Linked DNA regions of Homo sapiens. The protein of the gene in region 2 purifies or fractionates together with the protein of the main gene of each other region. This does not show direct contact. Each region holds a gene or a part of one and is shown on either strand. Other genes may lie near its edges.

What was found.
Region 1: the proteins of BCAR3 (region 2) and CCDC25 purify together in Homo sapiens (affinity purification with mass spectrometry; one large-scale study listed by BioGRID and IntAct). This does not show direct contact.
Region 3: the proteins of BCAR3 (region 2) and LMNB1 purify together in Homo sapiens (co-immunoprecipitation; one large-scale study listed by IntAct). This does not show direct contact.
Region 4: the proteins of BCAR3 (region 2) and GSPT1 purify together in Homo sapiens (co-immunoprecipitation; one large-scale study listed by IntAct). This does not show direct contact.

The regions. Positions count from the first base shown.
Region 1 is NC_000008.11:27,755,641-27,759,140, reverse strand, and holds part of CCDC25 (coiled-coil domain-containing protein 25), read left to right. Parts: intron 1-1,051; exon of another isoform or gene 1,052-2,370; coding exon 2,371-2,422; exon of another isoform or gene 2,423-2,838; intron 2,839-3,500.
Region 2 is NC_000001.11:93,671,838-93,675,337, forward strand, and holds part of BCAR3 (breast cancer anti-estrogen resistance protein 3), read right to left. Parts: intron 3,105-3,500; coding exon of another isoform or gene 3,094-3,104; coding exon 2,777-3,093; intron 1-2,776. UniProt on the Homo sapiens protein: Acts as an adapter protein downstream of several growth factor receptors to promote cell proliferation, migration, and redistribution of actin fibers.
Region 3 is NC_000005.10:126,829,136-126,832,635, forward strand, and holds part of LMNB1 (lamin-B1), read left to right. Parts: intron 1-3,500. UniProt on the Homo sapiens protein: Lamins are intermediate filament proteins that assemble into a filamentous meshwork, and which constitute the major components of the nuclear lamina, a fibrous layer on the nucleoplasmic side of the inner nuclear membrane.
Region 4 is NC_000016.10:11,884,957-11,888,456, reverse strand, and holds part of GSPT1 (eukaryotic peptide chain release factor GTP-binding subunit ERF3A), read left to right. Parts: intron 1-706; coding exon 707-887; intron 888-1,525; coding exon 1,526-1,680; intron 1,681-1,845; coding exon 1,846-1,986; intron 1,987-3,182; coding exon 3,183-3,276; intron 3,277-3,500. UniProt on the Homo sapiens protein: GTPase component of the eRF1-eRF3-GTP ternary complex, a ternary complex that mediates translation termination in response to the termination codons UAA, UAG and UGA.

The DNA of each region.
Region 1 (3,500 bases), on a different chromosome or scaffold from region 2:
GAAAGGGTAACAGGGAGAGGAAGATAACAAGGATAAGAGGGAACTATGGCTGTAATTTAAACTTTGAATAAATGTTTAGAAAGATTGGAGAAGTCGTTTGCTTCTTTTTTAAGGAAACTCGCTCAAGATAGTTTGTTTATAGAGCTGGATTTTTTTTTTCTCTTATACTTTCATCCATTCTCCCCTGCTCTTTGTAGAGGTGTATCTATCATATACAAACCTGAAATTGGTGTATATTGATAAAGTTGCTGTATTTTGGCAGTGATATTCCTGTGTGTGTTTTGGTTCTTTCTCTACTTATGTATGAATATCATTAAATATATATTGAATTATTTGGGTATTTCTTTTGACAAAATTCTACATCAGAGACCTTTAAGAAAAATCAGAATTCAATCTATTATAGGTACATAGGGAAGAAGATGTTGTAAATAGAGAACTGGCTTAAGGCAAATAAAAGTTGGAATGGGTAAAGTTACTTTTCAGTTATCTTGGTTACTAGTGTGATATTTTCCTAAGATTCTGAAAGAGGATAATGAGATATGTAATTTTTAGATTTGCAAAAAGCACAGGTTTTTCTGGCTGGAAAATGTCCAGCTGAAGGTGATAATTAGTATGAATCTCTCACATGGGAATGCAAATGAGTAAGTGAACCACTTGGAGAAATGTAAGTCAAATAAGATGTTATGTCCATTTCTGGCTATCACTAATGATTAAGAGTAAAACCTCGAGTCATCATAAACTGTGTGCCAAAAGTGCCTAATATTTTTCTGTATGCATAGTGAATAGCAAGATGACTAACCTCTTTAAAGAGGGCACTTTTATATAGAATCATACAGTCTACATCTTGTACTAGGTGTGAAGGTGACCATTTTCACCTCTAAAACATTTATTAGTGCTTAAGAAAATGGCTAGAGAAACATAATGGGATGTAATGATGCCTCTTTAGGATTTTCTGAACATTCTTCAGTCTGGAAAGGTAAGGACCAAGGAAGCAGTATGACTAATGTATTAGTCCATCTTGCATTGCTATAGAGAAATACCTGAGACTGGGTAATTTGTAAAGAAAAGAGGTTTAATTGGCTCATGGTTTGGCAGGCTATACAGGAAGCATGGCAGTGTCTGTTTCTGGGAGGCCTCATTCATAGAACTTTTAATCATGGCAGAAGGCAAAGGGGAAGCGAGGCGGCTTACATGGCAGGAGCAGGGTGCCGGGGCTGTGCACTTTTAAACAGATCTCATGAGAACTCTATCATAAGAATAGCACCAAAGGGATGGTGCTAACCCATTCATGAAGAATCCACCCCCATGATCCAGTCACCTCCCACCAGGCCCCACTTCTAACGCTGGGGATTACAATTCGACATGAGACTTGGTGGGGACGCAAATCCAAATCATATCAACTAAAGTTAACAGAATCACGAAGTGGCGATAGTGTTACCTTGTTTGTTGTGTGATGCTGGGATGCGGAGGGGGCATTTCTGGGTATTGGAAAGAGAAAGTCAAGTTCATTGGGTGAATTGAAAACATGAAAATCTCATATCCTGAATGTTGCATAGATTTTAAAAGGTTTAATTAAATTGATAGATGATAGATCCATCATGAAAGGTAAATTTAAGGGGTGGGGGACATTCTGAATGTTTTTAGGACAATGTCAGTAAAGGGCAGTGCTCACCCAAGAGACATATATTGGTATCACTGTCAGAATATAGGGCCGGATGAACTGTTGTGCTTGTGAATTATTGGGTTACATTATTGAATTGTGACCCATTTAATGACGTGTTCTGCTTAGCGTCTTTAGGCCCCACCTAACTCTTCCAGCTCTCTATTCGACATTCTCTTTGGATTGTTTTGCTATAACTTGAAATTTGGGATGTCACAAACGAAACTGTCATCTGTTTCCGCCAAACTGTGGTTCTGCTAATCTCCCAGGCTGGCAGCATTGGAGACTTGCTGACTTCTTTCATCCCCCACTCTTTTCACCTGAAATTCCTTTCCTTGGTTTTGCTCTAAGTCCTATGCTTCAGTCAGGGGCCAACCAAATCTCACTGCCTCCTTTTTATCATGAAGCCTTTGATCACTGATAGTTCTTTTTATATCTTGAAAAATCACCCTTCCCAGTACAGTTAATATTTAGTATCTCTACTCATCTTGGCACTTACTCACAGCTCCATAATTCAGTGTTTCTCGTACCTCTTCATGGTGATGGGGAGCCCTTTGGAGGTGGTGACTGTGCTTTATACTCCTCATGATGCTTCACATGTGGCAGGCATGGAGTGAAGACTTTTTAGAACAGAATGCTTTAAATGGCATGTGGCCTGAGGAGATGATTGTCTTGTACCTCTTGCTAAAAGTGGTTTTCATTCTTTGTAGGTTTCATGTGGACAAACTCTCTTCGGCTCATGTATACCTTCGATTACATAAGGTAACTGAATTTAAACATGGATTCTTGACTTTTCTCCTGATGATGCATCATATCTTGTTCTTTATCCTTTGCAATTAAATTGCTTACAGTAATAAGTTGGTACGCAAATCTAAAAGTTAACAAATGAAGACGTGTCTTCCCTCTGACCCAGAAAATCACTCTAACATTCTAGATGATTTTTGAGATATAGAAGGAGGCAGTGTACATATTTCCCAGCTAGATGCACTGCTTATCCTGTCACTTCCGGTGTGCTGTCTGTCATCTCTGCTTTCCTTTTCTTTCAATTCAGTTGACACTCCCAGACTTTCTGTCTCCTCCAGTGGATATCATGTGTGGCTCATGTGATTCTCCTGCCTCAGTGAAGGGCCCGTGTTCCCAGTTATCATGGGCTTCTTTAGGAAGTTTAAAAGAACATGCTAGTAATAAAGGAAAAAAATTTTTAGTGGCCCCTAGTAATACAATACCACTATTTTTCCAATCTATCTCTATTCATATATTTTATATAGTTGAATCATAGGGTATATATGCTTGCGAGTGTACTGCTTTCTTTTTGATAAACTTTCAACTTTGGAAAAATGTTAGATTTCCAGAAAAGTGGCAGAAGTGATACAGAGTTCCCATCTACCCTTCACCTAGTTTCCCCCATCATCAACATCTTATATTACTATGGTAGATTTGTCAAGACAAAGAAACTAACCTTGGCACATCGCTGTCACCTAAACTCTGGACTTTATTTGGATTTCACCAACTTTCTATTAATGCCCTCTTTTTGTTCTAGTAGCCAGTCTAGAGTACCATATTACATTTAGTTGTGTCTGCCTAGTCTCCTCTAGTCTATCACAATTTCTCATTCTTTCTCTGTTTTTTATGACCTTGACAGTTTGAGAAGTACTGATCAGGTGTTTTGTAGACTATTGCTCAGTTTGCATTTATCTGATATTTTTTCTCGTGACTAGACGGGTTATGGGTTTAGGGGGAGAATATCACAGAGGTGAAGTGCCTGTCTCGTCACAGCATATCGGGTGCGTGTATTACCGTGACTTATCATTGATGACGTGAGCCTTGATGGCCTGGCCAG
Region 2 (3,500 bases):
TAAGGTATTTTGTACTCCTCAAAATTGGGAACACCTCAGGAGATTTTTTTTTTAATGTGTTAGAGAAATAAATATATTAATAGTAGTACAGAGCAGGGTAGGACTTTACGACCCTTTAACAGAGAACCATGTGCCTTCTCACTCAGCACAATTTTTGAGGGATATGCATTTGTTACTTCCTGTATTCATCTTTAACAATAAGATATTTTCAGTTAAGAAAAAAAGATGTGAATTTGGATTAATATAGCTCTCAATCATAAACAAACCCTAAACCAGGAGTGCTTGTTAAGTCTTCCACAGCCTGGACTTCAAACTCAGGACCTGCACCCACCCTCCGATAAGATCTTTTACAGAAATATGACCTCTGTCCAAGTCAGTTTTCAAATCAAAAAGCTTTACACTCTTGGCAGCTTGACAGCTTGGACCTTGGGTGTTTACCAAGAACTTCCCCAAGATAGGAAGGGTGACTCCATCACTACTGCCTCCCCACCCACCCCCCTAGTGTGGAGTTTCCCTTTGTAAGAGCTGGCACCTAGCCAGGGCCTCAGAACTTCAAGGAGTAAGTCTATAAACTGTCTGTGTCTAGTACATGGTAGACATCTAGCTCAGGACAGTTTAAGTTAATAAATGAAAAGCGGTCCACCATAAGCCAGCTAACAGTTGGTTCTGACTCCGTATCACACAGCCTGGCATCTGTGCTCATCTTTAGCAGGCCAGAAGTTACCTGTCTTTGCTGCTCACCTCCTGCATTCTTGCCCCTTAAGTGCCAATTATGCGATGTTAACAATCCTGTGCACAGGTATGCACCTCCATGTTCACCCATTCCAGCAGTGGCTGCCTGCCAACTTTCTGAGCTGGGAGGTCACCCACCTAGATTTTGTGGAGCCGGTCCAGGGCCTTCTAACCCCCAGGATACCCCAAGGAATGTCCTAATCTGGTGACAGAAGCAGTTCAGGGCTCTCTAGTGGTTTCTATGGAGATTATCTGGGCCTCCACTTATTTTCTTCTTGTACTACTGCAATTATGGAACTGAGAATAATTCTGAACTCTTGTTCGCCTAGCTTTGCACCAACACCAACACTGTTCTCCTCTCAATGTGCTACACTCCAGCCACAGGCCATTCCAGTTCCTTTTGGGGTTTTCAAACATGCCAAACTTGCTCCCATCTCCAGTTCTCTGCACTTGACTTCCCCATGCCTGCAACAGCCTGGAAGGCCCATGGTTGCTTTCCCTCATTATACAAATATGAGCTTAAATATCATCTCAGAAACCTGTTCATCCTACCAAAAACGTACCACCTCCAATAAATCTCCAGCATATCACTCCATTTCCTCTATAGCATTTGGTATAATCTGCAGTTGTCTTATTTATTTGTATATACTACCTAATGCGCTCACTAGAATGTAAACTCTGGGAAGATATTGCTTCAGATGCTCCACTGCTACCCTGTTAGTCCACATATTTCCACCACCCTATAAAAGGGCAAGAACAGATTGCTCAATAATTTGGCTGCTAGAATGTTTTCAATGCTGGACCAGCCCTTCATTTAAGATAATCAGGACTGAGCAGAATTTTCCTGGTAAGCCCTGGGGCTTATGAAATCAACATACTCTAATATAGGTGCTCCATATATAAATATTGAACAAATAAATGAGCTAGGATCCAAGTGGCTTTGCGACAAGCTTGGACAAAAAGAGAGATAACAAAAGAAACAGTCCCATTCTTTACCAGATAGCATCACAGGCTGCTGATCTTCCCCAACAGGAAAAGGAGTGCAGTTTCCAAACTAGCTCTAACAGGCAGAAACCAATCACAGCCAGGCCCATTACAAACCCAGAGAAAAAGCATTTACAACCATAAGGCTCATTTACCCAGATCTCTGTCACAGAGAGGGAAAAATCAATTCTTGTCCTAAAGTATTCTGAAGCTGACCTGCTGGTGCATCCACATAAAATTTTATTTCAGCATGCTGACAACTAAATATAAGGAGATATGGGGTCTAATTTATAGACATCCTGGCATCTCTATAGAAGTGGATGGACATAGTTCAGAATCTGATGCTATGATAAAAAGAAAATACTTGGGCTTTCTTTTAAGGGACTTAAGAGAGGAAGCTGGATTTTAAAATATCCTCAAATGTTACATAATGTTAAGAAGTGGTTTTTATTTAGGTGTTATAGTTTTTTTTACATTGTGGTTATACAGTTTTTAAAATAAGAGTCCTTATCTTTGAAAGGAACATACCAAAATATTTCCAGATGAAATAATATGAAATCTGAGATTTGCTTCAAAATAATACCAAAGGAGGGAAGTAGGTGGGAGTACAGACAAAACGGGACTGGCCTTGAGCTGGTAACTGTTGGAGCCGGCTGACAGGTGCATGGGAGTTAATTATTCGCTCAACTTTGTGTATGTTTGATGTTTTTCCTAATAAAAACTTCGGAGTCTCACTCTGTTGCCCAGGCTGGAGTGCAGTGGAGCGATCTTGGCTTACTGCAACCTCTGCCTCCCGGATTCAAGTGATTCTCCTGCCTTAGCCTCCTGAGTAGCTGGGATTACAGGCACATGCCACCATGCCCAGCTAATTTTTGTATTTTTAGTATAGACAGGGTTTCACCATGTTGGTCTGGTCTCAAACTCCTAACCTCATGATCCACCCATCTCAGCCTCCCAAAGTGCTGGGATTACAGGTGTGAGCCACCACGCCCGGCCATAAAAACCTTTTAAAAAGCTGTTTAAGACAAATCATCTTCACTAGTGAAATTACAGAAGTTACCTGAAGGTGAAGGTTTCGCCGTGCCGGTCCTGCCATGGGCTCTCCTGGATGCCATCCTGGGTCACAGGCGAGTTCTGCCGTGGGGATTTGGAGTGGGGGAGGGTGCCCATGTGACTGAAGTCATCACAGGACCTTATGGGAGGAGGACCTTTTTTCTTCCGTGGAAGGGTGCCATGTATAGACACATCTTGATAGGCATCTGGGCGATGCTCAGCGAGAGGGGACCTGCTGCTCAGAAGGTCCATGGATGAGGCCAGGGGGAACTGGTGATTCACCGGCATGTTTCTGGGAAGGCTTGCAAATTTTCCTGCAGCCATAATTCTCAACTCTAAGGGGGAAAGAAAAGAGTGAAGGTATAAATCTATGAGAGTCACAAGAACTGACTTCCTACTTACAAAAGGAAATGGAAATATGCCACATAAAATGAAATATTCACAGACCATTAACAGATCAACATTTAATGGCATCACTAGTGGAGTCTAATAAGAATGGGAAGTTTACTTATCTTCCTCCTGAAATGATCCTACATAGGAATTGTCCTGGGTTGGCAGCAAAACCAAGAGGGCAAACACTTTCAGAGTTGTTAGAGGCATATAAGCCATGCACAACCAGCAAAAAAAGATGATTAAGAGAGGACTCATAGTTGCAGTAATAAATGTACGAAAGAAAATATTATAAACTGTTAGATAATTAGCTCACATTATTTTCACTGCCCTGTAAATGA
Region 3 (3,500 bases), on a different chromosome or scaffold from region 2:
GTTTTTTTTTTTCTTCTTGCTGGGGCATTGGAAATGTCAGAAAACCCAATTAAACTGGCTTAGAAATAATGGAAATTTTTTGGGCTCACATAATAAAAAATTTAAATAGTGGACCTAATCCAGTGGCTCACAGCATGTCCCCGGGGATCTGTCTGTTGTTTCTCTTCTGGTTGCCTCCCTTGGGGACGCAGGATAGCTGCTGGCTGCTCCCAGAGGTACGTCTTTTCTATTTGCTTTTTGTGGGAAGGTGATCTTTCAAAAAAGTGCTCTTTATGGTGGAGTTTATAGATTGTTGCTAACGTGGTCCGGTACTACTGACAGATAAACATGGTCTTACCCAATTAAATGAATACATACCAAAAGTAACTGTCTAATGAAATAAGACCTGTATTCATACCACTTTCTCTCCTCGTTCCTGACAGAACTCTCTCAGAACAGCCTAGCAAGCAGAAGGCAGTAGAAGTTTGTTAAAAGAATGGACAATCCAGCCCACCAAATAATCTGATATTGAGTGTTTGAATTATGGAGGGAAGCTAAACTTCATCCCCTGTGAGGCACCCATCCTGGGCTTCACTCACACTGGACTAGGGTGGGTCACGTGCCCACCTCTAAACCAGTTCCTGGAGTTGGGAGGGCGGAATTAGAGCTCAAGACTTCTTCCTCCCCTCTACAGCCACATTGCACTGGGCTCCTTGTGACACACGTGTGCTCCATGGGGGGTGTGTACCCAGGTAAACCTAGGGGCTCTTATTCAGGAGGGAGGGGGCACTGGGTGGTTAAAAACAGCGATTGTCACCATGGCAAAAACAAGATGTTTTTTATGAGGGAAATAAAAAATAAAGCAGTCCTTCCAAACTTTCCAGAATATAGATATAATGGAAACTTTTGTATATGCAAATGATTACTTATATATGTAGAGATGCAATATATAAAATATAAACAATCATCTTTCGTCCACATAAGATCGCCCTGATTTGTAGCATTTGCTAATTTCTGTGGTATAAATACTCCTACTGTGGCTGATGCCAGGCTTCCAGCATTATGTGACTGAGCACAGAGCTGTGCAGTGATGAGCAGCATCAGCAGGTGCAGCCAGCTCCGGGCACCACTGCACAGATCAGTGCACCTTCATATGCCCAAGGCTCGCAGCAGGGGCGGACCAATGCTGCATTTTATAGACAGAGTAAAGCCTGTCATGTAAGACTATTTATGTGAACCTTTCAGGACACTTGGGGTAAACACATTTATTTAGTAGCATCTTGACTAATAACAATTTCCTTGATCTAAACCTCCCAACAGCTTTTTGGTTCTAAATTATTATTTATTATTTTTCTACCTAGATTTTTAGACATTAGCTCACCCATTTTTTATACGGCTTTCTGTATTAGATTAATTGGTTTTTGCATGTTTTCAAATGAAGAGTGCTTAACAGCAGGGTTACACTTAAAGTAGTTATGTTAAGGTAATTCATAATAATGAAGACAGGCAAGTTGCTGTTTTCTGAGGTTCTCATTGAGGCTAATAGTCTTAAGCTACATCATGAGCCTTAAGAGCCAATGTTTGCATATGGGATGTATACCACGAGCTTCTAGAAGCTGGAATGTGGTAATTTTGTTATAGAAGATTTTATTTGACTCGTTCCTCATTTTAAGATGAGTTGAGAAAAGCTGGGTACTCTCAAAGTTTTTTAAGAATTTATTTTTCTGCTTTATATGCTGCTATCTCCTAGTTGATAGCTTGAACGGTGGTTGATCTAAAGAATCACATTTTTTTTATTACTAATTTGGTTAAAACACTGATATTTGTGAAATGGCTATTTCTGTTTGTAAAGATAGACCAATTTCACAGAATTGAAGTTACTGGCTAATTGAGAGGCTCAAAATGGTCCATCTTCCTTGGTCCTGCAAGAGTAATAAAAAATCCCCACAAAATACTGTTCTGCCACCTTACTTTATTTACAAAACACATTATTGGGCATATTTCAAATCGAAGTCTCATTTCTGTGACACTGGGTTTTGATTTTCTTTCTCTGCCATTGTAAACTAGCTGGTCTGTGTTAGATAAGCTTTTACTGAAGTAATATTGTGTCTTCCCCTGTAGCATTCTCTTTCTTGAGTGACCTTAGGACAGGGTACAGAATAAAATTATATGCTCTGCAGCACTCTTGAGGACACACTCATTTACTTGCTGCCAGATCATCAGGTTAGCCTTGTGCTTAAGCAAAAACACTGCTGCATTTGTGCCAAGTCAGCATTTTCCACAGGAAAGTAATCTGTATTTGACCTTTTTAGTAGAAAATGGAAATAGTTGCTTTCTGTCATACCTTTAGTGAATGATAGGAGACCTATTTCTGTACAGAATACATTGGAACCTCACTAGTACGTTATTGGTAAATAGTGTACAGTGTTCATCTGTCTTGATTTTGTTTCATTCAAGAGGTATCAGTTGCTGAAAGGAATGAAAGGAGCTTGTCCTTTCTTCTCACTTATCAGGTGGTCCTGTTGCTGGTAGTCCCTGAGATCACAGTTGGCTTCCAGCTTCATTTTATTCAGCATTTATTTAGCACCTTATCTTTGCCAGGAGCTAAGATCTTTAAGCTGAATTCATGTTGAGTTTTATAAAGAATTTAGTATGTCAAATAATTTGTAGAATTCTTAGTAACAGAATAGGATAAAAAGCAGTGGAAACTTCTCAGCAGATATTTCGAATTGGATAGTACTTCCTCCCCTGCAGGAAATATGGAAGGTATAAGAACTGCTACTAATTATGCGGAAATTTCAGTTTAGTAACCAGAAAGTTACTGATATACAGCTCCCCCCGCCCCACCCCTTTAAAAATAATAAACAGGGGCCAAGTGTGGAGGCTCATGCCTGTAATCCCAGCACTTTGGGAGGCTGAGGTGGGTGGATCACTTGAAACCAGGAGTTCAAGACCAGCCTGGCCAACGTGGCAAAACCCCATCTCTACTAAAAATGTATAAAAATTAGCCGCACGTGGTGGTGCATGCCTGTAATCCCAGCTACTGGGGTGGCTGAGGCATGAGAATCGCTTGAACCTGGGAAGTGAAGGTTTCAGTGAACCGAGGTCATGCCACTGCACACCAGCCTGGGCGACAGAGTGAGACTCTGTCTCCAAAAAAAGGGATGAATAATAGTAATAATAATAAACAGAAATGCTGTCTCTTTTTTTTTTCTTTTTTGAGACAGTCTTGCTGTGACACTGGAGTGCAGTGGCGTGATCTCGGCTCACTGCAACCTCAATGCAAGCCATTCTTCTGCCTCAGCCTCCTGAGTAGCTGGGATTACAGGCACGTGCCATCATGGCCAGCTAATTTTTGTATTTTTAGTAGAGACGGGGTTTCACCATGTTGGTCAGGCTGGTCTCTAACTCCTGACCTCGGGTGATCTGCCTGCCTTGGCCTCCCAAAGTGCTGGGATTACAGGTGTGAGCCACTGCGCCTGGCAAGAAATGCTGTCTCTTAAGCAAAGAAAAGGTCCCTC
Region 4 (3,500 bases), on a different chromosome or scaffold from region 2:
AGAGTCTCCCTCTGTTGCCCAGCCTGGAGTGCGATGGCACGATCTTGGCTCACTGCAACCTCTACCTCCCAGCTTCAAGCGATTGTCCTGCCTCAGCTTTCGAAATAGCTGTGACTACAGGTGTGCACCACTATGCCCAACTTTTGTATTTTTAGTAGAGATGAGGTTTCATCATATTAGCCAGGCTAGTCTCGAACTCCTGACCTCAGGTGATCTGCCAGCCTCGGCCTCCCAAAGTGCTGGGATTACAGGCGTGAGCCACTGCGCCCAGCCCTATTCTTTCAATTTCTTTGTTTTCTTTTGAGACGGAGCCTTGCTCTGTCGCCCAGGCTGGAGTGCAATGGCACGGTCTTGGCTCGCTGCAACCTCCTCCTCCCAGGTTCAAGCGATTCTCCTGCCTCAGTCTCCTAAGTACTACAGGTGGGCTCCTCCACACCCAGCTAATTTTTGTATTTTCGGTAGAGACAGGGCTTCACCATGTTGGTCAGGCTGGTGTCGAACCCCTGACCTTGTGATCCGCCGCCTTGGCCTCCCAAAGTGCTCAGATTACAGATGTGAGCCACCGCACCCGGCTCAATTTTCATTTCACCAATCTTGTTCGTGATTTAGGTGTTGTGTGTCATCCATTATATCTTTAATGGTGAAGAATATCCTAAAAACTCTGATGTTCTTAGGAATATTGTTCTTTTTTTAAAAATTATTTCAGGTACTTGTCTTGGGCCTTAGACACAAATCAGGAAGAACGAGACAAGGGTAAAACAGTAGAAGTGGGTCGTGCCTATTTTGAAACCGAAAAGAAGCATTTCACAATTCTAGATGCCCCTGGCCACAAGAGTTTTGTCCCAAATATGATTGGTGGTGCCTCTCAAGCTGATTTGGCTGTGCTGGTAAGAAAGACATTTCCAGTCCATCTGTATATTTGTTAGTAGCCCCGCTTATATCTTTAAATTTGAATTTATCTTCTAAAAGCTCAAATTCAGGTTGCAGTGAAATATAATGATGTACACGGTCACAGTTTTCATCATACTAATCTCTCTTCAAGAAATCTTCAAAATTTGATTTACTTCTGAAAATACGTTTCACCTTTTCTCTCCTGTTGCTATTATCTATTACCATGTCAGAACTTAGTCTCCATTAAATGCCAAGCCCACCGTTAGGCACCATGGGTAAAAAATGAATAGGAAACCATCTGTTTCATACGGTCTTCAGTCATTTTGCGCTTTTCACAATGTACTGGTAGTAGATCACAATTTTTTTTCCTTTGTAGTTACAATAGCTAGAAAGTAAATGTTGGAATTTTAAAATATGCAGGTATACTAGATTTTGGGAATGTGGGGGATTGGAAGCATCTAGACATTGTTTGATTTGTGACATTCAAAAGCAGGTACGTCATAACTCGTTTGCTTCTATTTTCTTGCAAAAAAAAAAAAAAAAACTCGTGATATAACTGAAAGGAAAGATGTTTTACTGCCATAAGGGTATGCCTGAAGGCGAAGGAGTAAACTGTTTCCTTTCTTGGAATTAGGTAATCTCAGCCAGGAAAGGAGAGTTTGAAACTGGATTTGAAAAAGGAGGACAGACAAGAGAACATGCAATGTTGGCAAAGACAGCAGGTGTAAAACACCTAATTGTGCTAATTAATAAGATGGATGATCCAACAGTAAATTGGAGCAATGAGAGGTGAGCGTAGATGTCTGGTATTTTATGTTAGTGGGATTAAGGATGGTTTTGTTATTGTACGACTTTTTCTCTAGGGTTTTTCTAAACCTTAATCTGTTTACTTAGGAAACTAGAGTTCTTGGTTTACATTATAATTGAGTTATTTTGGTTACATTATAATTGCAGATATGAAGAATGTAAGGAGAAACTAGTGCCATTTTTGAAAAAAGTTGGCTTCAATCCCAAAAAGGACATTCACTTTATGCCCTGCTCAGGACTTACTGGAGCAAATCTCAAAGAGCAGTCGGATTTCTGTCCTTGGTACATGTAAGTAACTGTTTTTTCCTTTTTTTAAAAAGGAAAAGGATGTTATTACTTAAATTACTTATAAAGACATATGCTGAGTAACATGTTAACATATGCTTTTGAGCATATATCTTTATAAGTAATTTAAGAAAATATTAAATGTAACCTTGGCTTTAAAAATACTAAGATCTTTGCCCATTTTTAAACTGGGTTGTCATTTTGTTACTGAGTCCTAAGAGTTCTTTTTAATACTGGCTACCAGTCCCTTATCAGCTACAATATGATTATAGCAAGTATTTTCTCCCACTTTATGGATTGCCTTTTTTCACTTCTCGATGGTGTCCTTTGAAGCACAAAAGGTTTTATTTTTGAAGTTTTTTACATTTAGATATGTATTTGATTTTGAGTTAACTTTTGTGTAAGATGTAAGGTCTATGTGTAGGTTTGTTTTGTTTTTGTATATTAATTGTTTACACACAATTTGTTGAAAAGACTATTCTTTTTTCATTGAATTGATTTGGCTCCCTCTTTGAAAATCAAATGACCATAAATACGAGTTTATTCTTGAACTCCGTGTTTCTTTTTTTTGGTTTGTTTTTTTGAAACAGGTTTTCACTCTGTTAACCAGGCTGGAGTGCAGTGGCATGATCTCGGCTCACTGCAACCTCTGCCTCCCAGCTCAAGAGATCCTCCCACCTCAGCCTCCCAAGTCGTAGGGACTGTAGGCACATGCCACCGCACCCGGCTGATTTTTGTATTTTTAGTAGAGACAGATTCACCATGTTGCCCAGGCTGGTGTCGAACTCCTGGGCTCAAGAGATGCACCTGCCTTTCGGCCTCCCAAAGTGCTGGGATTATAGGCATGAGCCACTGCACGCAGCCAATACTGTATGTTTAAAGGGGAAATTATTTTATAGAATCTTGGTTTCATAGCTGGAAAAGTCCATAAAAAGTAATATAGTCAATTTATTACATGTAGGCTATTTGCTATAAAATATTTCTCTAAATTTTAATAAGTTTATGAGGAAGCCTTATACTGAGCAGTTTTATAATAGTTTTCTGTGGAATAAGTGAGATGAAATGGATAATAAAGTGGTTGAATGGGAAGAATACATGAGTAGAATGAAAATATTATTAGAAGCTGTTTATAGTCATGTAACTTAACATTTTGATATTTATGTTGACTTCCTTTAATGGCTTTGTTGTTATGTTCTCAGTGGATTACCGTTTATTCCATATCTGGATAATTTGCCGAACTTCAATAGATCAGTTGATGGACCAATCAGGCTGCCAATTGTGGATAAGTACAAGGTACCCAAAATGTTAAAGAAATTGGGTTTCCTGGGAGGGGAAATCATTGTTGTGCATTTTGTTTCTAGTTTTGAAAACTTTTTTTCTTTTCTTTTCTTTCTTGTTTTTTTTTTGACAGAATCTTGCACTCTGTCCCCCAGGCTGGAGTGCAGTGGCGCGATCTCAGCTCACTGCAAGCTCTGCCTCCTTGGTTCAAGTGATTCTCCTGCCTCAGCCTCCTGAGT